Homo sapiens: one gene and its partners. The protein of the gene in region 2 interacts with the protein of the main gene of each other region in a pairwise test. Each region holds a gene or a part of one and is shown on either strand. Other genes may lie near its edges.

Region 1 (5,388 bases), on a different chromosome or scaffold from region 2:
ATTTTTAAGTTGCTGAAGTCATCCCAGTGAACACTAATGAAGGCTTAAACGAATATTGGCAGCCAGCAAGAAGAACAAACAAGCCAGATTTGAGCGATAGAGTCAGCAGTTCTTATAAAAAGAAGGGATTTAAGAAGAGTCAGAAATGTGTTTTGAGGTTTTTTTGCCTGGGGGTTGGGGAGCTGAAGCTGGTACTGAAAAAGAGAATAAGTGAGTTCTGAAAAGAATTAAATTTAATCTTTGACATTCTAAGTATAAATATGTTAGTAGAACATCCTCTTAAAAATGTGAGGCCAGCAGTAGAAATTTGGAATTTGATAACATTTAAGAGTTGCACAGGCCAGGTATGGTGGTTCCTGCTTATAATCCGAACACTTTGGGAGGCTGGAGCAGGAGGATTGCTTTAGAACAGGAGTTCAAGACCAGCCTGGACAACATAGCAAGATTCCAGCTCTGCAAAAAATTAAAGAAAAACTAACTGGGCATGGTGGCACACACCTGTAGTCCTAGCTACTCAACTAGGCTGAAGTGGGAGGGTTGCCTAAGCCCAGGAGTTCAAGGCTGCAGTAAACTGTGATTATGCCACTGCACTCCAGCCTGGGCAATGGAGTAAGACTCTGTCCCTAAAAATTAAAAAAAAAAAGAGTTCCACAATGTCTTATGCTGCATAGAAAAAGATGTGAACCAAAGAAAAAAACATCTTTGAGAGAGAACATAGTGTCATTAACAATGTGGGGGTGGAGGTAGAAGCCAGATTGCAAGGAATTAAGAAGCAAGTAGGTGCTGAGAAAGGAATAGTCTAACTATATTAAAAATATATGAAACAACTTCAGTGAAGGGAATTGGGGGAAAGGTGTTGACATAAGTAGCTTTGGAAATGATTAAGAGTGTAAGAGTAAAGGCAAAAGGAACTACACATAAGCACTGTACTCTAGTTGATAAAGTTATTACCCATGGGTGTACAAGTTAACAATTCTGATAATGCTATACATGTATATGGGAATTAAACAATTACGTAAATCAATAGCAAATGTTTGAGAGCCGGGTTTCTCATTGTTGGAGCGGGAATTTACAGATAAGCAAAGGGCTGGAAACAGCATGAACTCGTGTACCTTAATACAATATAGATGGTTAGTTACATATAGAAATATTTATAGATAAGTGTATATACATGGGTTAGTGTGTGTATTTCTTGGCTTTCTCAGCTGAAAGGGTCTATAAGCAATGACATCCCAGTAGCAATGAGCTCACCTAGTACCCATATCTTGGTTTCTAATATCATTCTCCAATAAAAGGTACCAGGGCTCCTTGGAGAAATGGTTGATTCTAGGACTGGGGCAAGAAATACACAAGATGGACCTGGACCATCTCTTAATGCCAGTAATAAAGAAGTATTCAAAACAAACAAGAAAAACAAAAACGTCTATTGATGAGGATATGTCAAAAGGATATAGGAGCTAACTAAGAGAGCTCCCACTGACCAAAGCTGAAAGAATTTGAGCATCAAAATTTTAAAAATAGCATTGGATAATAACTCAAAGTATAAACTAAATATCCATGAGTCCATACTGATATAAATAAATGAGGGAGAAGAGACATGTCTTCCATGCTGAAGAATTCCAAATAATATATGTAACTATTCTGCCCTCAAGTAGAGGGAGCATAACTCCCCACTCCTAAGGTGCTGGCTATACATGTTAACTTCCTGCTAGTGTGTACATATGGAAAGGGAGGAAAAAGGTAACTTTACAGTGGGGAAACCTGAGAAATACTGCCTTAGCCAGGCGATCAAGGTCAGTAGCAACAGTGATAAATCACATTAATATCATGTATCATTGATGTGATATGATGAAGATGGTACTTTATCTCGGTGGTCTTCCTGTCAAAAACCCATTTTCTCTAGTCTAATGAGAAAAACATCAGACAAATTCCAGTAGAGGGGCATTTGACAAAATACTTGACTGGTACTCCTAAAAACTGTCAAAGTCATCAAAAACAAGGAAAGGCTAGAAAACTGTCACAGCCAAACAGTCTAAGGAAACATGACAAATAAATATAATGTGGTATCCTAGATAAGACCCTAGGATAGAAAAAGGACATTGGTACAAACTAAGGAGATCTGAAAAAAGTACAGTTTAGTTAATAATAACATTTCAATATTGGGTCAGTAATTGTAACAAATGCGCCATACTAATGTAAGATGTTAATAGTAGGGGAAGCTGGGTGAAGGCATGTCTTAGTCCACTTGGGCTAATATAAGAAAGTACCATAGACTGGGTGGCTTTCACAACAGACATTTATTTCTCACAGTTCTGGAGGCTGGGAAGTCAATAACGGTGGGTATAAGAGAACTGTGCATGATCTCAGTGTTTGAGTCTACAAAAATAAAAGGCAGAGGAATATAATTAGGTAGAGTTTGTTTTGCTTTTTTCAAGGGAAATTTGAGCATATTAGTATGTGATGGAAGATTTACTGAAGGAGGAAGGTTAAAGATGAAAAAAATAGCAGGAGTTATCAATTGAATAGATGATAATAAGTGTATAAGTGGTAAGACAAACAATAGAGAGGAGGGATGTATTTTTCTCCAAGTTGGAGGAAAAGGATTAAAAGACAGAAAAAAATGCAGAGCAGTTTTAGCATGGAGTAACAGACATGTGACAGTATCAGGTAAATATATTCTCAATAGAGGTGTTAGGTGTCAAGGTCCAGGGGATGGGGATGTAGATTTGTTTTATATACAGAGATAATTTTACTTTGTTGATTGTCTACCATTATATAAGAACCTGTTGTGCTGGTATACTTTACATCACAAGGATTTGTAAAACTCAGAAACCTTAATAGGTACGTCTTAAATTTAAATAAAGGAGAGAAGAAAGGAAAGATTATAAATTTACTAATGTCAAGTTTAAATTATTCTAGGTTTCAAATCCTGGCAGATATTACACATCTAAATTAGCTGTAGGGCACTGAATTTGCAAAACAAATCTTTTTGAAAACATAGTGCATAGAAGAAATGGAATTTCTTTCTTTTTTTTTTTTTGAGATGGAGTCTCACTGTCACCCAGACTGGAGTGCAGTGGTGTGTTCTCAGCTCACTGCACCCTCTGCCTCCCGGGTTCAAGGGATTCTCCTGCCTCGGCCTCCCGAGTAGCCGGGACTACAGGTGCATGCCACTACACTCGCCTAATTTTTGTATTTTTAGTAGAGATGGGGTTTCACCATGTTGTCCAGGAGGTCTCGAACTCCTGACCTCAGGTGATCCACCCACCTTGGCCTCCCAAAGTGCTGGGATTACAGGCATGAGCCACTGTGCCTGGCCAGAAATGGAATTTCTTTTAATTTCAGTGAAATCACTTGGGCTTTGTACAAATGGAAGCTGACACTAAACATTTTTTAGGACCTGTCAGTAGTTACTTGGTTGAATTAAATGTGTCATAATGGCTTGAATACAGTTTCTCAAATAGTACTTATGTGTATATGCTCACACCATTTTAAGGAGATGGGGGATTGATGGTTAACATTTTTTTTTCATTTGTACTTTATTTAGTGACTAACCAATAAAGTAATAGATAATAGAGTACTAACTTTATGTGTTACTACTACTACTTTATGAGTAACTCGAGACCTTTGCATATATATTAATGCTTTTATTAAAATATATATTTTGATAAATACCTGGTCATTGTAAAAAGTTTAGAAAGTGCAGATTAGTAAAAAGTTCTTAAATCTCACAAATAACCACTGTTAACATTTTTTTGGTGTACTATCCTCCCAATATTTTATATGTATATTTTTTACCAATTGTATATATTGTAAACACATATGTAACCCCTGTGTTCCTTCTAAGCTCAGTCACTGGAAAACAGAAGAATACCATTCTGTAGCTGAAAAGATTTTAGAAATGATAAAAGCCAGTGATTTTTTTTTCCTGATCTTTTTCTTTTTTAAACATCAGAATCCTTTCTTAAGGTAGTAAATATAAAATTGAAGCTGTGTAGAGTGTCCTGCCCCCCAGTCTTTCCCCTTCCCTGAAAGTAAATAAAAATCTGCGTCCGTAAGTGTTGCCAAGAATTCCTACTGAAAATAATTTTGCTCTACCCTCTAATATTCTGCTCTGTTAAAGGAATTTTGAGTTAATTTATTTCCCATTTTCTCAGTTTAAATTTTTTTTTTATTTTCTGCAGTAAAAACTAGATTTTCATATGCCTTTCCAAAGGAATTTCCTTATAGGATGAATCATGTAAGTATATGATATAAAATGGAACAATTATCAAAGCTATATATAAACTAGCTCTATTTTATATTAGACTAAATTTAATAGTTTCCTAGAAATGGCAGTTTCAAATATTACATAAATACAGACATTATTCTAAATTAAAGCTAAATAGCTTTTACCATTTAAAAAAAATACTTCATAGTGGCGATTATCAACCCTGGCTGCTCATTAAATCACCTTGGGAACTTGTAAATAATACTGATGTTGGATCCTTTCCAGAACAACAAAATCAGAATTTTCAGCCTTGGGGCTCCCAACATTGGTACTGTGTAAAAGGTCCCAGGTGATACTACTATTTAGCTGGGATTAAAAACTAATGGAACAATATGAAATATAAGGTGAATTTCTATTGACATTTTAATAGGTATGTCCTTTTTCCACCTTGCAAGGGATTTGTTTATTCTCTTTAAGTTACATTTTTTAAATTAAGTAGAAATAATTGTATTTTTGCATTTGCTGAGTAGAAAGTATACTGGAAAATCTGATGGTTTTACAGGATATTTTAAATAAAAGTGAGTAATAAGAATGATTGTGAGAAGCTGGCTTTTCCTTACAAGGATTAAAATCCTTATAATCATAATTGCATTTCTAATAGTAATTTTTTATTGCAGATATTTATTTTAATATAAACTATGTTTATTGTCTGGATTTTTAAAACTTTTTAGTAAAAATTTTTGATAAATTACTATAATGTCTGTAATTTATGTTAGATTAAGTGGACTTATCTAATTTGGTTTCATATTGACATTTCATTGATAATCTTTGTTTTAAACAGATATTAGAATGTGAATTCTATCTGTTAGAACTAATGGTAAGTAAATCTTCTGTGATTAATAGATTAAAACATTTTTAAATTAAATGAAGTTGGAAATTATTTAAAGAAATGATTTTAGAGAGGTACATTTTAAAACCATCCACCTAATATGTGATGGTGAAATCATGGTAGCCTATTTATATTAGCACCTAGAGTCTCTCTGAAGCCTGTAAAATAATTTGTATATCCTACTTAGGATGGGAAAATTTTTCTGTTCTATAGTAAGTAACTATAATGAAAGGATTACAAACAGACAAGTCAGGACATTAAACCACCATAAATTATGTGCACAATTTGT
Region 2 (5,388 bases):
GGGACAGCTACACATACAAGAGCCAGGAATTAAAGGAAACAGAAAAATAAGTTTATGTTTCCTTAAGCATTAAGAACTTTAAGCCATATTTATTTTACATGCTACTTACATGATACAAAATTGCTTTTTAATTAAGATTATACACTAACACTCCAAAAGCAGCACTATAGCAAAAATCAGACAGCAAGATATTGCCAAGCGTTGGCAGGGCTGGAAAGACAGGGGACCCTCACACTGCTGGGTGTAGACTAGGACAGCCATTCCAGAGAGTAACTTGGCAGTACTTAGACAAGTTAAATATACATATATAAATCCCACAATCCCACTTTGCTAGGCCATCGTGGTTATGCACAAGACTGTTCATCAGGAAGCTGTTTGTGGTAGGAGAGAGCTGGGAACAATCTAGCTGTCCATCATTACCGGAGAACAAAAAGTCAAATGCAGTGAATGGCGTAACACATGGAATCCTATGTAGCAATTAAAAGCAAAGGATTCAGTGTACACAGAGCATCAAGGATAGCTCTTAAAAACATAGTGCTAACTGAAAAAAAGAAAAGTAAAACACGGAATAAAGAATTTCACAGCATAACATCATTTATGTAAATCAAAAATACATGCTCACAAAACACTGCAGGTCACAAGAGCACCAACAAACAGAAAGATGCATATCCAACATATTAGAATGGGTTCCTTTTGAAGGCAGGAAGTAGGGGAATGTGAGTGGAGGATGAGAAAAAGGGGAGTAAATAAATAAAAGCGAGGAGTAAATAAACAAAAGACCAAGGACAACAGTGTGCTCTGCCCTCAACAATCTGCCCGACTCAGTCATCTGCTCCAGAGGAAAAAGAAGGGTGCCAGGGATGTGCTGGGCTTGGTGTAGAGATTACCTCTAACTCTTCAATTGTGGTGTTTTCCTCATGAACTTTCAGATCATTCTGTGTGTCTTCCTCTCCAGGCTCCTGACCGCCGACGATTTCATTGAGGTACTGCTGATCAATCTTATCCAAGGCTGCTTTCAAATCATTCCTCAATCCCTAAGAAAAGCAAAAAAAGGAAGAACACCTGTTATGAAAGGAAGAACACCTGTTTTTTCACCTTTGATTTTTCATTAATAACTGCAAATATTTTTTCCCCCACAAGAAGAGTTCAGCAAAAGTAGGGACTCAAATCACATCAATTTATCACACAACTATCACTACTGTCCATTTAAAGTTAATTCTTACGGACCTATTTAAATTAAAACAATGCACAAACAATGGCCAGTCTGCTGGTCAGAAAAATAAAATACACGTGAGTGACAAATCCAAGTAAGAATCTTCATCAATGCTGTAATTTTCTAATGAGGCTTAGTGACAGTGGCAGGTCTCCATTAGAGTCCCCAACCCGTTTGCCCAGCTCATTTACAATGTCTAACCTCAACTACTGTGAACTCCCAAAACATTCAGAAACATCAGTGTAATAAAATTGGTGCCTCATCTATATCCCAGGTTCTCAACTATGTTTCTAGCAAACCAGCAAATTCGCATTTTATGCACATATGGTTCATGACCCTTTAATGAAAATGGAAGCCTCATCTTCCTAAAAATGAATGAGAATCAGCTGCAAGGTTTAAGAGCCAAGGAAACATGGCTGTGAGGCGGCTATAGGGTAATGGTTGAGAGTAAAAGCTATCTGGGTTCAAATCCTTGCCACATACTATTAAATAGCTCTTTGAAAGCTTGCTTAACCCCTGTGTGCCTCAGTAGACTCACCTACAGAATAGGAGTAATGGCACCATCTACTACGTAGGGCTGTAATAAGGATGCTATTTTTTATTTCAGTGAACAGTTACTATGTGATGCAGCTGTTCCAGAACCTCGCAAACATCAAGTCACGCAAGTAAGCTAAGAAATGGACGATGAGCTTTGAACAGTTACTGGAGCACGGTGCACATTCAACCAATGTTAACTCCTAACGTTCTCACACAAAAAGCATCTGATCATTGTCTCCTGTCCCTTCATAAACACAGAAGAGAAACATTCAACTCAAAACACTTATAATTTCTCAAACACTGACTGATCACCTGCTGTGTAAAAAGTATGACGCCAGGCATTCCCAGAGGTCACCTCATCGAATTCTCAGTGCATCCCAGTGAGCCAAATATCACTGCCTCTGTTTTACCAATGAAGATTCTAAGGTTCAAATAGAGTAAAAGACTTGCCAACGGCCAAATAATTGATTACTATAATCCAGGAATGGAATCCAGACCTTGTGCTCCTGTGCTTTGTCCTCAAAACCTCTAGATGCACGGCACAGGACTTGGCATACAAAGGTAAAACAGCCTTTGCCCACCAGGAAGAGATAAATATGCACATAACTCTAATAATAGCGAAAAACAGTAAGTACACTAACAAAGGTTTACTCATAGGCACATGGAGAAGGAAGCAATTAATTCTGACTGGGACCAAAAATAGATTCCGAGAGAAGATGTGGTCACTGAATTGCATGTGAAAGTATAAAAACAAGATTTCAACCAGAGCATACAAGGCAGAAACACAGCAAGCAAAGGAAAAATGATCATTACAGACACAGAGGACTGAAAGCAACTGCTAGTGTTGTGGGGCTGGAATGACAATGCTGGGAAGTAAAGCAGGAAAGTGGTTTGGCAACAAAGAAAGCAGTCAGACAGCCCAGGCTAGCAGACAGAGCAGGTCGGGGAGCGGGCCTGGCCAGCCCCAGCTGTTCCTGCCATTCCAACTGAGACGCCAGGAAAGGGGCAAGATATCAGCTTAGAAGACCAGTCCAGAGGCAGCCTCACATGATTTCGGCCGCAGCCTTCATCTGACTGCAATCACAATAAAGACCCCAAGCAAGATACTGCTCAATCCAGCCCAATAAAACCACAGAACTGGTAATTATTAAGACAATAACAAATTATCTTAAGCTATCAAGTTTCAGGGTGGCTTGTTAATCACCAAAAACAGATTTGGTAATGATAAATCCTTTATAATAAATAAACAAACACTAGTAAGTTTTGGAGTAGTCTGTTACATAGTCATAGGTAACCACACCTGTCTCTCAATAATTGAGAAAGCAAGTAGATAAAAAGTTAGCAAGGCCAAAGAAGATCTGAACAACACTATCATCACTGACATTTGTAGAACTGTACCATGAAAGCAAAACAATACTCTTTTCAAGAGCCCATGGAATAAACCATATGCTAAGCCATAAAACAAGATCAGAGCCTTAAATGTAAAGCAAAAACTATAATATTAAGCTTCTAGAAGAAAATTAAGAATATATATTTGAAATCTTGGGATAGGCAAAGATTTCTTAAGCAGGACACAAAAAGCAATGACCATAAAAGGAAAAAACAATAAATTGGACTTCATTAAAATATAAAACTTCTGGCCCGGGCACTTCGGGAGGCCAAGGCGGGAGGATCCCTTGAGTAGAGGAGTTCAAGATCAGCCTGGGCAACATGAGGAGGCCTCATCTCTACAAAAATTAAAAAATCAGCCAGGCATGGTGGCACACACCTGTGGTCTCAGCTACTTGGAAGGCTGAGGTGGGAGATCGCTTAAGCCCAGGAGCTAGAGGTTGCAGTTAGCCATGATCATGCTGAACTCCAGCCTGGGTGAGAGTGAGACCCTGTCTCAAAAAGCGTGTGTGTACACACACACAAACTTCTGTTCAGCAAAAGATTCAATTAAGAGAACAGGTAAGCCCTAAACTACAAGAAAATAGTCACAAAAAATATTCGTATATCTGACAAAGAACTTCTATCCAGAATATACAAAGAATTCCTATAATCCATTTACAAAAAGACAAGTTTATTTTTAAAATGAACAAAAAGCGCCTGTAATCCCAGCTACTTGAGAGGCTGAGGTGGGAGGACTGCTTAAGCCCAGGAGGTTGCAGCTGCCATGAGCCATGATTATGCCACCGCATTCCAGCGTAGGTGACGGAGTGAGACTCTGTGTCAAAAAAATAAATAAATAAGGAAAGAAAGACTTTAACAGACACTACACAAATGAACACAACTTTATGAAAAGATGCTCCTCATCTTTAGTCATCAGGTAATGTGATTAAAGCCGCAAAGAGCTACTACCAGACACAAAAGAGAATGGTTAAAATTAAAAAGACTAACAATACCACATGCTGGGGTTTGGAAATGACTGGCATTTCTTATGAAGTTAAGCATACATCTACTCTTATTATCCAGCAATTCTACTTCTAGGTATCTCCCCAAGAGACCTATTTATTTACCCAAGAAAAATAACATAGTTCCAAAAAAAGATCTGCATAAGAATGGTCATAGCAGTTTTATCCCTGTTTTTTTTTTTTTTTTTTTTTTTTTGAGAAGGAGTCTCACTCTGTCGCCAGGCTGGAGTGCAGTGGCACAATCTCAGCTCACTGCAACCTCCACCTCCCGGATTCAAGTGATTCTCTTGCCTCAGCCTCCCAAGTAGCTGGGAATACAGGCACACGCCACTACGCCCAGCTAATTTTTGTATTTTTAGTAGAGACGGGGTTTCACCATGTTGGCCAGGATGGTCTCGATCTCTTCACCTTGTGATCCACCTGCCTCAGCCTCCCAAAGTGCTGGGATTACAGGCTTGTGCCACCACGCCCAGCCAGCAGTTTTATTCCTAATAGCCCAAAGCTGGAAACAAATTTTGATATATTCATACAACTGAGTATCACTGGAAAATGAAAAGGAAACCAGTGGTATCTGCAATAACATGGATGAACCTAAAAACTGATATGCTGAGCGAAAGAAGCCAGACACACAATCTATGAGTCCATCTGTATGAAATACAAGAACAAGCAAAATTAATCCATGATGACAAAATTCAAATGGTGGCTGCCCAGGAAGGGATGAGGAGAAATATGAGGATAGGCTGAGAAGGGGTACTGGGGAAATTTCCTTTTTCTCTTTTTTTTCAACTTTTAAGTTCAGGGATACAGCTGCAGGATGACAGGTTTGTTACATAGGGAAACGTGTGTCGTGGTGGTTTACTTCACAGATCATCCCATCACCCAGCTATTGAGCCCAGCATCCATTCGCTATTCTTCCTGATGCTCTCAGGGAAATTTCTTTGGTGACGAAAATGTTCTATTTCTTTATAAGGGCAATGGTTATATGCTTGTATGTATTTGTCAAAATGCATTAAATGTTATACTTAAGATATGAGCTTTTCAAAAAATTAATGAAAACTTCCATTCAGCAGCAATAATCTGCTCACTTTACTTTTCCATTGTTGCCTACAATAATGCAATTAGTCAAACTCTATTCTAGTGAATGCAGTACAGTGGTATTTTTCTAGCTTTGTTCTGTCCTCTTACCTTGTTAACTTCTGGTGTGAGGATCTCTATTTTCCTTAAACGTTGAAAAGCATCATAATC
Region 3 (5,388 bases), on a different chromosome or scaffold from region 2:
TTTCCTCACATGAAAAATGGGGAAGATGATAATGCTTATTCCTCAAGGTTGCTGGAAGAGCAAGGAGATAATGCAAATAAAGCTAGTTTAAGCAGAAATTGGGAGTTTATAATAAAGGGAGTGTTTCATGGAACTAAAGGAAGAAATAGAACTAGGAACTAGAACCATAGAGAACCAAGGCAGTTCTTTATCTCCGTTTCTCTAGTGCTCGCTACACATCTGTGTTGTGTTCTCTCTCTGTTCTCTAGCCCAGCTTGCAAATGGTAGTCACATCCAGCTTTCAGGTTTACATGTTACAAATTTAGCCTCAAAGAGAGCATCTATCCCACCTCCAGATTCCCAGAGAAGGAACTCTAGTTGGCCCAGAGTGAGTTAGGCATCCTTCCCTAGATCAATCAACTATGACCAGGAGGGTGGTATCATGTTGTACATACAGACTGCCAAGAGCTCACCCACCCTCTTAGATAGTTTAGGGGAATGGGGTGGTAGTCACTTAAGTGGGTACTTTTATGTGACTGAAGGCATGAGAGTCTTCAGGAATGGCAAGGATTGAGTATGTGATCACCTTGTTGCTGTTCCCTACTTTGTCTGCATCTTAATTGATCGTTCTAGAGGCCCAGCTGTGACCTCTTTTATCCAGTCTATAAAATGCTCCAGCCAGTCTTTGTGGGCTGTAGGTACCTTATATAAGGCTTGATCTGATTGCAGGGTGGGGTCAAATAGGTGCAGCTTCCAAGATGACCAACAAGAGTAAGAGTAGACTTTAAAGATGTCATGCTTTAGGTGCGACAGTGTTCTTCCTCCGGTTTCCAGGGACCCAACACTCCAAGTCACTAATACTTCCCTTCTCTCTGCTCAGGGAGATGGTACTGGAGTCGCCAGTATTTACCGGGGGCCATTTGCAGATGAAAATTTTAAACTTAGACACTCAGCTCCAGGCCTGCTTTCCATGGTAAGTGAGGTCCAATCAAGGTTTTGGGTTATAGCCAGCTGGTTCCTGGGCCCCTCTTGAGGCCCAGTGCTGTCTCTTGGGATGGAAGCAAATGCTTTCCTTCTCTTGCTTGGCCCAGGACTCACCTTTACCACCTCCTTTCTTAGTCTGGTTTGACTGAGAAAACCAGTAGGTATGCTGGCTCACGCCTGTAATCCCAGCACTTTGGGAGGCTGAGGCAGGTGGATAACCTGAGGTCAGCAGTTCGAGACCAGCCTGGCCAACATGGTGAAACCCCATCTCTACTAAAAATACAAAAAATTAGCCAGGTGTGGTGGTGGGTGCCTGTAATCCCATCTACTCGGGAGGCTGAGGCAGGAGAATCGCTTGAACCCAGGACGGGGAAGTTGCAGTGAGCTGAGATTGCCCCACTGCACTCCAGCCTGGGCAACAAGAGCGAAACTCCATCTTAAAACAAAGAAAAGAAAGAAAAGAAAACCAGTAGGTAAGGCCCACTAGCAGGCTAGCAGGCTGGGGAACTAAAATCTGAACCAGGATTTGTGTCTGGGCATTCAGCCCTACTGCTCAGAATGTAAACAGTTGTGCTTTCAAGACATATTCATAGCTGGGTGTGGTGGCTCACACCTGTAATCCCAGCACTTTGGGGAGGCCGAAGCAAGAGGATTGCTTGAGGTTGAGGTCAGGAGTTTGAACAATCTGGGCAACATAGTGAGACTTAGTCTCTACTTAAAAAAGAAAAAAAAAATTAGCCAGGTGTGGTGACACACACCTGTAGTCCCATCTACTAGGGAGGCTGAGGTGGGGAGGATTGCTTGAGCCCAGGAGTTTGAGGCTGCAGTGAGCCATATCCTGTTCATCTCTGTATCCTTGGATCCTAGCTTAGGCCCTGGCTCATAATAGGTGCTAAGTTAGATTTACTGAAAAAAACCATAGAGGAATCAGTGTTACAAGCTCTTTTGGAAATCTTGCCCTTCAGCTAACATGGCCGGGGAAACTTACTGCAGGTATATTTGGTTTCCATCAGGCGAACAGTGGTCCAAGTACAAATGGCTGTCAGTTCTTTATCACCTGCTCTAAGTGCGATTGGCTGGATGGGAAGCATGTGGTGTTTGGTAAGTCCTACTCCTGTCTCATGGTCCAGGCCCCATTCACCCTGGATGGAACCTCCAGAGGAGTTAGTTCTCAAACTCTTACCAAGAAAGCTCAACCTGTGTAACTGCTTAGGTGGTAATAGAGAAAACAGAAATGGTGGGGAGGTGGGGAACATGTGTGGCTAGAGAACTAGAGGGAAGGACAAAAGGACCATTTGATATAGTATGGAACCACTTAGGGAGAAAACCCAGTTGCTAGCACCAAAGAAATGCCATAGAGGCAGCATGATACGGTGAGACTTTGGAGTCACTCAGGTATAAGTTTGAGCCCTAACTCTACTTATTACCTATGACCTTGAGCAAGTCATTTCACCTCTACCGCATCTTAATTTCCTAAAGTTAGTATGAGGGTTTAATGAGAAAATAGCTAAGAATGGGCTTTGGAAGCTGGAAAATGCTATGTAAACAAGAATAAAGTCCAGCTCATGCTCTTCCTACAGGAAAAATCATCGATGGACTTCTAGTGATGAGAAAGATTGAGGTAAGTACTGCTTTGATTTTTCTGTTTCTCTGCCATTGTGGTCTGGTACTGTCTGACTAGCGTGCAGGAGCTAGAGAAGGGGGAATGAGCTCCAGTTTGTTAGGCTGTCTTCATTGCCCCAGGAAAAGGGAAGAGAACCACCTAAGTTAGCCTGTCTGGCCAACACTGAGGTTTGGCCTCTGATGATCCTGTTGCCTACTTGATAAAATTCTACTCCTCAGCATTGCGTTCAAGGTCCTTCATGATTAGTCCCTGTCTACCTCTCCATGGCCCCTTCTTCTGCCATTGCCTCTTCCATGTTCCAGTCACATCAGGCTACTAGCTCTTCTCTAAATCTGCCATGCATGTCCCTGCTGCTTGCTCTTTCCTGCCCCTGAGCCTTTGCTCACACAGTTTCCTCTAGCCGGAATGCTCTTCTTTCCTTCCCTCCTGATGGAATCCCATTCATCCTTCTAGGCACAGTTCAAATACCCCTCTTTTGTGAATCCTTCCCTGACCTCTTTAAGCCCCAATTTAGTTGCCTATCTAACCCTTATCCAATTCTCTCTTATAACTTTTTCTTATATAATCATAAGTTTGATATTTTCTAAGTGTTTTGCATTTTCTCTTTGATAGGTATTATATGCTTTACCTGTCTGCCAGGACATGGACTGTTTCTGAGTGCTGAGTCCTTAGCACAGGGCTGGCAGGCATCAGTAAAAGTTTGATAAGGGAACGAGGAAGTGCCTGAGTGGATGAATCTCCATTGTGCTTTTTTTCCTAGAATGTTCCCACAGGCCCCAACAATAAGCCCAAGCTACCTGTGGTGATCTCGCAGTGTGGGGAGATGTAGTCCAGACAAAGACTGAATCAGGTAAGTGTGTCTTTCTCCTATTAGGTTAGGAATCAGACCTCAGAGAAGGCAGCATGGTCTAGTGGAAAGAACTTTAGTCTTGAAGACATGAGATTGAGCCCAGTTCCTCCGTGTATGGCCTTGGAGTAGTCACTTTCCTTCTCTGAGCACATTTCCTCATCTGTCAAATGGAAATACTGTAATACCTATCTCTCAGAGTCACTGTAAAAATAAAAAGAGAAAGGGTTGTAGGAGCACTTTACTTTTCTATCACTTTGTAATGTACAAAGTATCAATGTGAAAACTACTCAGGCAGTTTGTAACAGCACTCTCAGACTACAGTTCCATTCAGTAGTCCCCCTAGAAAGACCTGGCTCCAGGCCTGAGTAACTCTCTGCTGGGACCAGGCCAGGCAGCCAGGAGACACACCTGTCATGCCTCTCATCAGAACTGATACTGCAATTCCAGGCCTCGACTTCATATTCGCTGGCCTCATAGGTGAATGCCTTGCATCTTCCAGCCTACATGGACTCATTTCTTACCCGTAATTACCACTGCCTGCTCTGCGCTGGGCAGCATGCTAGCTGCAGAGAGGGGGACAAAGAATTGAAAGATGTCTCCTTTCAGGAGCTCATGGAAAGTAAGACATTCCCAGAGGTGATCACTAGTAATATGAGTGACATTGCCAAGTATGAGAAGAGTACAAGGGAGAAATCCATCACTTCCAGCCAGGTGAGGGGTAGTGATGTTTTGTTTTTCTTTTTTTTTTATTTTCAAACCTGCAAAAAAGTTAGAAGATAATACCTTGAACACCAATATATCTTCACTTAGATTCACCAATGATTAACATTCTTGTTTTATTGCTTTGCCTTGACATTTGTTTTTTTCTTTCCCTTCTTGCCTCCTCACCCATTTCCATTGCCTCTCCTCCTCCCTCCTGCTCCTCTTCCCTCCCTCCATCCTTTCCTTCCTTTCTTCCCATCTTCCTTCCTTTACCCTTTCTTCTTCTCTTTCCCATTTGAAAGTTGCAGACTTCTTGACACTTTACCCCTAAGTATTTCAGCAAGGAACTCCTAAAAATAAGAACATCCTACGTAACCACAATATTATCTAATATATAGTACATTTTCAAACCTCCCCAATTGTCCCAAAAGTAACTTTTGTAGCTTAAAAAAAGGTGATCCAATCAAGGTTCCCATATTTCATTTCATTTGGTTTACACAAGTAACATAATACACTCTCATTGTGAAAACTTTCACACCAAACAGATAAAGTGAAAGCCCCTCTTGACAATACCCACCTGCAATTCCACTCCCCTTTCCAAAGGTCACTTCCTTATTAGTTTGATGTATGTCCATCAGGGCCTTTGCCTTGCCCATCTAATTTTGGGAGGTTTTCTTTTTCCCAAATGAAATCATACTATATTTTTCATGTTCTAAAAAATATGTCTTGAAAACTTTTCCTTCTTAGTTCATGTAAAACCACCTTGTATTAAAAAATGAAAACAGCCCGGCAGGAGGTGGCTCACTCCTGTAATCCCAGCACTTTGGGAGGCCAAGGAGGGCAGATAGCTTGAGCTCAGGAGTTCGAGACCAGCCTGGGCAACCTGGTGAGATCCCGTCTTTCCAAAAAAAAAAAAAATTAGCCAGGTGTGGTGGTGCATGCCTGTAGTCCCAGCTACTCAGGAGGCTGAGGTGGGAGGATTACTTGAGCCCAGGAGTTTGAGGCTGCAGTGAGCTATAATCACACCACTGTACTCCAGCCTGGATGACATCAAAAAAAAAAAAAAAAGGAAAAGAAAAACCGAAACTGCAGTGCAGGCTGAGCATCCCTAATCCGAAATCCCAAATGCTCCAAAATATGAAGCTTTTTGAGCACTAACATGACATTAGAAGTGGAAAATTCCACACCTGACTTCATGTGATGGATCATAGTCAAAAATCTGTTTCATGCACAAACGTATTAAAAATAT
Region 4 (5,388 bases), about 110 Mb from region 2:
TTAGCCAGGCACAGTGGTGTGCACCTGTAATCCCAGCTACTTGGGAGGCTGAGGCAGGAGAATTACTTGAACCTGGGAGGCAGAGGTTGCAGTCAGCCGAGATCACGCCACTGCACTCCAGGCTGGGTGACAGAGCAAGACTCCATCTCAAAATAAAATTTAAAAAAATACTATTTGTTTAGGGCTGGGCGTGGTGGCTCACGCCTGTAATCCCAGCACTTTGGGAAGCCAAGGTGGACAGATCACCTGAGGTTAGGAGTTCGAGACTAGCCTGGCCAACATGGTGAAACCCGTCTCTACTAAAAATACAAAAATTAGCTGGGAATGTTGGCGGGCGCCTATAATTCCAGCTACTTGAGAGGTTGAGGCAGGAGAATCACTTGAACTCAGGAGGCAGAGGATGCAGTGAGCCAAGACCACGCCATTACACTCCAGCCTAGGCAACAAGAGCGAAAACTCCATCTCCAAAAAAAAAAAGATATTATTTGTTTTTAAAAAAGCTATTTGTATTAATTTCTTATTGCTGCTCAAACAATGATTACAACCTTAGTGACTTAAAACAACACAAACTTTCTGTCTTAGAATTCAGGAGGTCAGAAGTTCAGCAAGGCTCTCACTGAGCTAAAATCAAGGTGTTGGGAAGGCTGTGCTCCTTCATGAGGCTCTAGAAAAGCCTTGCCTTTTCTCCTAGAGGCTGCTGGCATTCCTTGCCTCAGGGCCCTGCAACTCTCTCAAGCCTCCGCTTCTCTTCTCATGGTCCCATCTATAATCTTCACTCTCCTGTCTCCCGCTGTGATTTACAAGGACGCTTGTGATTACACCACCCACCCAGATAACCCTGCCATTTAAGCAACCTTTAATCACTTCTGTAAAATCTCTTTTGCCACGTAAGGTGGCATACTCACAAATCCTGGGGACTGGGACGCACGCATGGGGAGGTGGGGTGTGGACATTATCTTGCCTGCCACTCTATTTATATTGGTCATGCAAATCACCCAAAAAGCCCAAAGAGGGGGTAGAGGGAGATGAACCTATAAGGAAGTCAATGGGCAAGTTAAAAATGTAAATTTGGACATTATAACTTATTTCATCAATACTGTTTTTATTTTTTTGTTTTTATTTATTTATTTATTTTGAGACAGAGTTTCACTTTGTTGCCCGGGCTGGAGTGCGGTGGCATGATCTCAGCTCACTGCAACCTCCGCCTCCCAGGTCCAAGAGATTCTTCTGCCTCAGCCTCCCAAGTAGCTGGGATTACAGATGCCCGCCACCACACCCAGCTAATTTTTGTATTTTCAGTAGAGACGAGGTTTCACCATGTTGGCCAGGCTGGTCTTGAACTCCTGACCTCAAGTGATCCGACCGCCCCGCTCTCCCAAAGTGCTGGGATTACAGGCATGAGCCACCGCGACCAGCAGATGGTGTGTTTTTAAAAACACCAAATGTTTTGTGCCTTCAGGTAAGTCATCAATAAAATATCCTTGTGAAAGAAATAATTTTTAAAGCTAAGGAGTAATGAACTAGAGAATAGAAGCCTCTTCTATTTTTTTCTTCACAATCGTTTGTATGCCCTGAGTTTTCTCTCAAGTTAAAAAGTCACCCCAAAGATGTCTTAAATGGGCAAAATCACCAGTGTCCAATGCAAGGATTTCCTTTTCCGTTTTGACATGGTAATTTTCTTGGTAATATAAATCACTTTAAAATCATTCCAGTTCAAAGGAATATAATCTCTCAAAAACTAAATGACTTTTCCTTCACAGAAGTTAATTTAATTTTGTTTGGATTATTGTACAACCTCCCTTTCATTACACCAGGCACATATTTCAACAGTAGAAACTTTTTTTAAAAAAATCATTATAGAAGATTACATTTTGCAACGGTTTTGTTTCTCCAGAGAAAAAAGTAATACTAATTTAATAATTTACTTGAGAAAAACCTCTGACAAATTGTAAATGTCCATCTATATACGTAATTCTTAATATCAATACCAAAACAAATTGAAAAGAATATTTTAAAATGTAATACGCCTACACTTTGCTATTTTTTTTTTTAAACAAGGTGTGTAAGTAAAACCAAATGGACAAATACCTTCTGACATATTTAATACCATGCAAGTTTTAAGACATGGTCTTGCTCTGTCACCCAGGCTGCAATGCAGTGACACAATCATGGCCCGCTGCAGCCTGGGCGCAAGTGTTCCTCCCATCCCAGCCTCCTGCATAGGTGGGGACCACATGGGAACACCACCATGTCCTGCTAATTTTTTTTATTTTTTATAGAGACGAGGTCTCGCCAAGTTGCCCAGGTTGGTTTTAGAGTCCTAGGCTGAAACGATCCTCCCCTCTTCTCAACCTCCCACAGTGCTGGGATTACAGGACTGAGCCACCATATCCAGACCCATCCAGAAACTGTGGAAATATTTAGATATTTCTAGAGTTACACTTGGCACTCTAGAGTGGACAGACACCATATGACACGTTATACGGATTTCTGGCAAGAGGCCCAAATACAATTAGAATCCAAATGGATTTGCCTCAAACATTGATTCTCAACACAATTAAGTTATGAGAAAAGGGAAAATAATAGATTAAATATAACAATATTTTTGCAGACAACTAATATAAGAAAACGTTACCAATACATGTTCTATGTTTTAAAAATCATGTAAGACCAGGCACAGTGGCTCACACCTGTAATCCCAGCACTTTGGGAGACCGAGGCGGGCGGGCTGCTTGAACCCAGGAGTTTGAGACCAGCCTGGGCAACAAGGGGAAACCTCATCTCTACAAAAAATGCAAAATTAGCCAGGCGTGGTGGTGCACGTCTGTAGTCCCATCTACCTGGGTGGCTGAGGTAGGAGAATTGCTTGAGCCCAGGAGGCAGAGATTGAAGTGAGCCAAGATCACACACCACTGCACTCTAGCCTGGGAGACAGTGAGACCACCTTGCCTCAAAAAAGTTAATTAGTTAATTAATTAAAAAATAAAACAATAAAAATCATCTAAGTCTTTACAGACATGTCAAAATTCTGAAAGTGGGACAAATTTTGCTCAGAAACCATCAGAATTATAATCCTCATGATGCCACTTCATCCTGCTACTTGATAAAGAAGAGATTCTGGTTCAGTCCGTAAGTCATTGATTTTCAACAGGGAACACCACTGCATGTGCACTTCACGTCACCCCAAAACTTCAGAGCACCGGGAGGCATTACTGATTCACATATTCCCTATAGTGAAAGCTGTTCATACCACTGCTATTGGGCAACTGAGTATTTCAGCATAAAAATTCCAGTTTCAGGCCAGGTGGTGGCTCACAACTGCAGTCCCAGTACTTGAGTCCAGGAGTCTGAAACCAGCCTGGGCAACACAGAGAGACCCCATCTCTACAAATCATTTTTAAAATTGGCGGGGCATGGTGGTATACACCTGTACGCCCAGCTACTAGGGAAGCTGAGGTGGGAGGACTGCTTAAGCCCAGGAGGTCAAGGCTGCAGTGAGCTGTGATCGCACCACTGCACTCCAGCATGGGCAACAGAGCAAGATCCTGTCTCAAAAAAAAAAAAAAAATGTGTGTGTGTGTGTGTGTGTGTGTGTATACGTGAATATATATACATATATGTGTGTGTAAACATATATATATACATATGTGTGTAAACATATATATATACATATATATGTGTATACATAGTTTCAATGTGAACTTGTTACTTAAGTTTGATTTTTTTCCCCCTATACCTTCAACAGCCCCAACCAAATCTCAGCTCCTAAACTTAAGAAAGATGCAGCTATTGTTTAGGAAGTAAGATAAACGCCAACTAGGAAGCAGCAGGTCCAATGACAACTGAATAAAATATTTCAAGTAAAAATCTCATTTGATAGTTATAGCAAACACATAGAATGATTTTTTTGAAAAAACAAATATTGCCATGAGTGAAAGTAGGGAGGTAGAGAAATTAAACATAAACCTGACTTTAGACTTTTCATGTCCATAGACTGCCTGGTGATAAACTGAAGCCTCTATACCCTTTCCTGTAAGACCCTTTCATACCCACTACTTACCTCAGTCTTCCTGACAACCAGTGAGAAGTAAAACTGGCTCTCCTGGGTTGAGCCCCAACTATTGAAAAACATAGAGAGCTAGGAAGCAGGCAAAGAATCTAGAAATTCATAGGAGGAGTAGGATAAAGGTTTGCCCAGACCCTAGTTCCCAAAAATATTCATTCGTTCATTGATATAAAAATACCTGAGTGCCTAGTATGTATGTAGCAGGCACTGTTGTACATACTAAGATACAGCTTTGAACAAAACATAAAATTACTGGCCCTCAGGAAGCTTAAATTCTAGAGTAGAGAGAGACAAATAATAAACAAGATGATGAAGCATATTAGAAGTGTTATGAAGAAAATTAATGCTGTGGGGAGGGATAATGGACAGGGATGAAATTTTAGATACGGCAGTCATGGAGGACCTCATTGAGAAGGCAATACATGAGAAAAGAAGCGAAGGTGGAGAGCAATCCAGGCAGAGCAAACAGCAAGTAAAAGGCTTGAGGCTTATTTATAGGAAAAAAAAAAAAGGTGGCAAGAGTGGCTGGAATGAAATGGAAAAGGTGGAAAACAGATTAGTTCAGAGATAAACTATATTTGGCCCTTGAACAACATGGAGATTAGGGGGACCAATCTCCCACACAGTAGAAAATCCATGTATAACTTTTAACTCCCCCCAAAATACTGATAGCCTACTGTTGACCGGAAGCCTTACTAATAGCATAAACAGTCGAACACATATTTGTATATGTATTATACACTGTATTCTTGTAATACATTAGAGAAAAGAAAATGTTATTAAGAAAATCATAAGGAAGAGAAAATACATTTACCAACTCATTAAGTCAAAGTGGCTCATCATAAAGGTCTTCATCATCATCATCTTCACCTTGAGTAGGCTGAGGAGGGGGAGGAGGAAGAAGAGGCATTATTCTTGCTGTCTCAGGGGTGGCAGAGCTGGTAGAAAACTCACGTATAAGTGGACGCGCACAGTTCAGACCTGTGTTATTCAAGGGTCAAAAGTATATGGAGGGAAGCTGAAGTGTGCAATACAGAGCATGTAGATGGCCTTGTAGAGTTTTTGAGGGACTCTGGCTTTTAATCCAAGTAAAACAGGTGATCACTAGAGGGTTCTGAGAAGAATTAGCTCCTCTGATGACAGCAGATTGTACGGAGGGCAAAGGCAAGGGTAGATCATGGTTTGGACAAGAATAGTGAGAAGTGGTCAGAGTACAGATATATTTTGAAGGTAGAGCCAAAGAATCTTCTCAGAAATAGAAGTGGGGCATAAGAGAAAGAAGAATCAAGGAGGGCCAAGGCTTTTGGCACAAGCAATGGAAT

The links. Proteins that work in one complex are often made in the same cells at the same time.
Region 1: the proteins of PRPF18 (region 2) and CCNC interact in binary tests that used the Homo sapiens proteins (3 or more experiments, as listed by UniProt).
Region 3: the proteins of PRPF18 (region 2) and PPIH interact in binary tests that used the Homo sapiens proteins (3 or more experiments, as listed by UniProt).
Region 4: the proteins of PRPF18 (region 2) and ZRANB1 interact in binary tests that used the Homo sapiens proteins (3 or more experiments, as listed by UniProt).

What each region holds. Positions count from the first base shown.
Region 1 is NC_000006.12:99,550,692-99,556,079, reverse strand, and holds part of CCNC (cyclin-C), read left to right. Parts: intron 1-2,278; exon of another isoform or gene 2,279-4,184; coding exon 4,185-4,240; exon of another isoform or gene 4,241-5,051; coding exon 5,052-5,087; exon of another isoform or gene 5,088-5,388. UniProt on the Homo sapiens protein: Component of the Mediator complex, a coactivator involved in regulated gene transcription of nearly all RNA polymerase II-dependent genes.
Region 2 is NC_000010.11:13,605,685-13,611,072, reverse strand, and holds part of PRPF18 (pre-mRNA-splicing factor 18), read right to left. Parts: coding exon 5,329-5,388; intron 1,035-5,328; coding exon 888-1,034; intron 1-887.
Region 3 is NC_000001.11:42,664,004-42,669,391, forward strand, and holds part of PPIH (peptidyl-prolyl cis-trans isomerase H), read left to right. Parts: intron 1-859; coding exon 860-952; intron 953-1,976; coding exon 1,977-2,064; intron 2,065-2,543; coding exon 2,544-2,584; intron 2,585-3,347; coding exon 3,348-3,416; 3' UTR 3,417-3,437; intron 3,438-4,043; exon of another isoform or gene 4,044-4,148; intron 4,149-5,388. UniProt on the Homo sapiens protein: PPIase that catalyzes the cis-trans isomerization of proline imidic peptide bonds in oligopeptides and may therefore assist protein folding. Participates in pre-mRNA splicing.
Region 4 is NC_000010.11:124,947,704-124,953,091, reverse strand, and holds part of ZRANB1 (ubiquitin thioesterase ZRANB1), read right to left. Parts: intron 1-5,388. UniProt on the Homo sapiens protein: Ubiquitin thioesterase, which specifically hydrolyzes 'Lys-29'-linked and 'Lys-33'-linked diubiquitin. Also cleaves 'Lys-63'-linked chains, but with 40-fold less efficiency compared to 'Lys-29'-linked ones.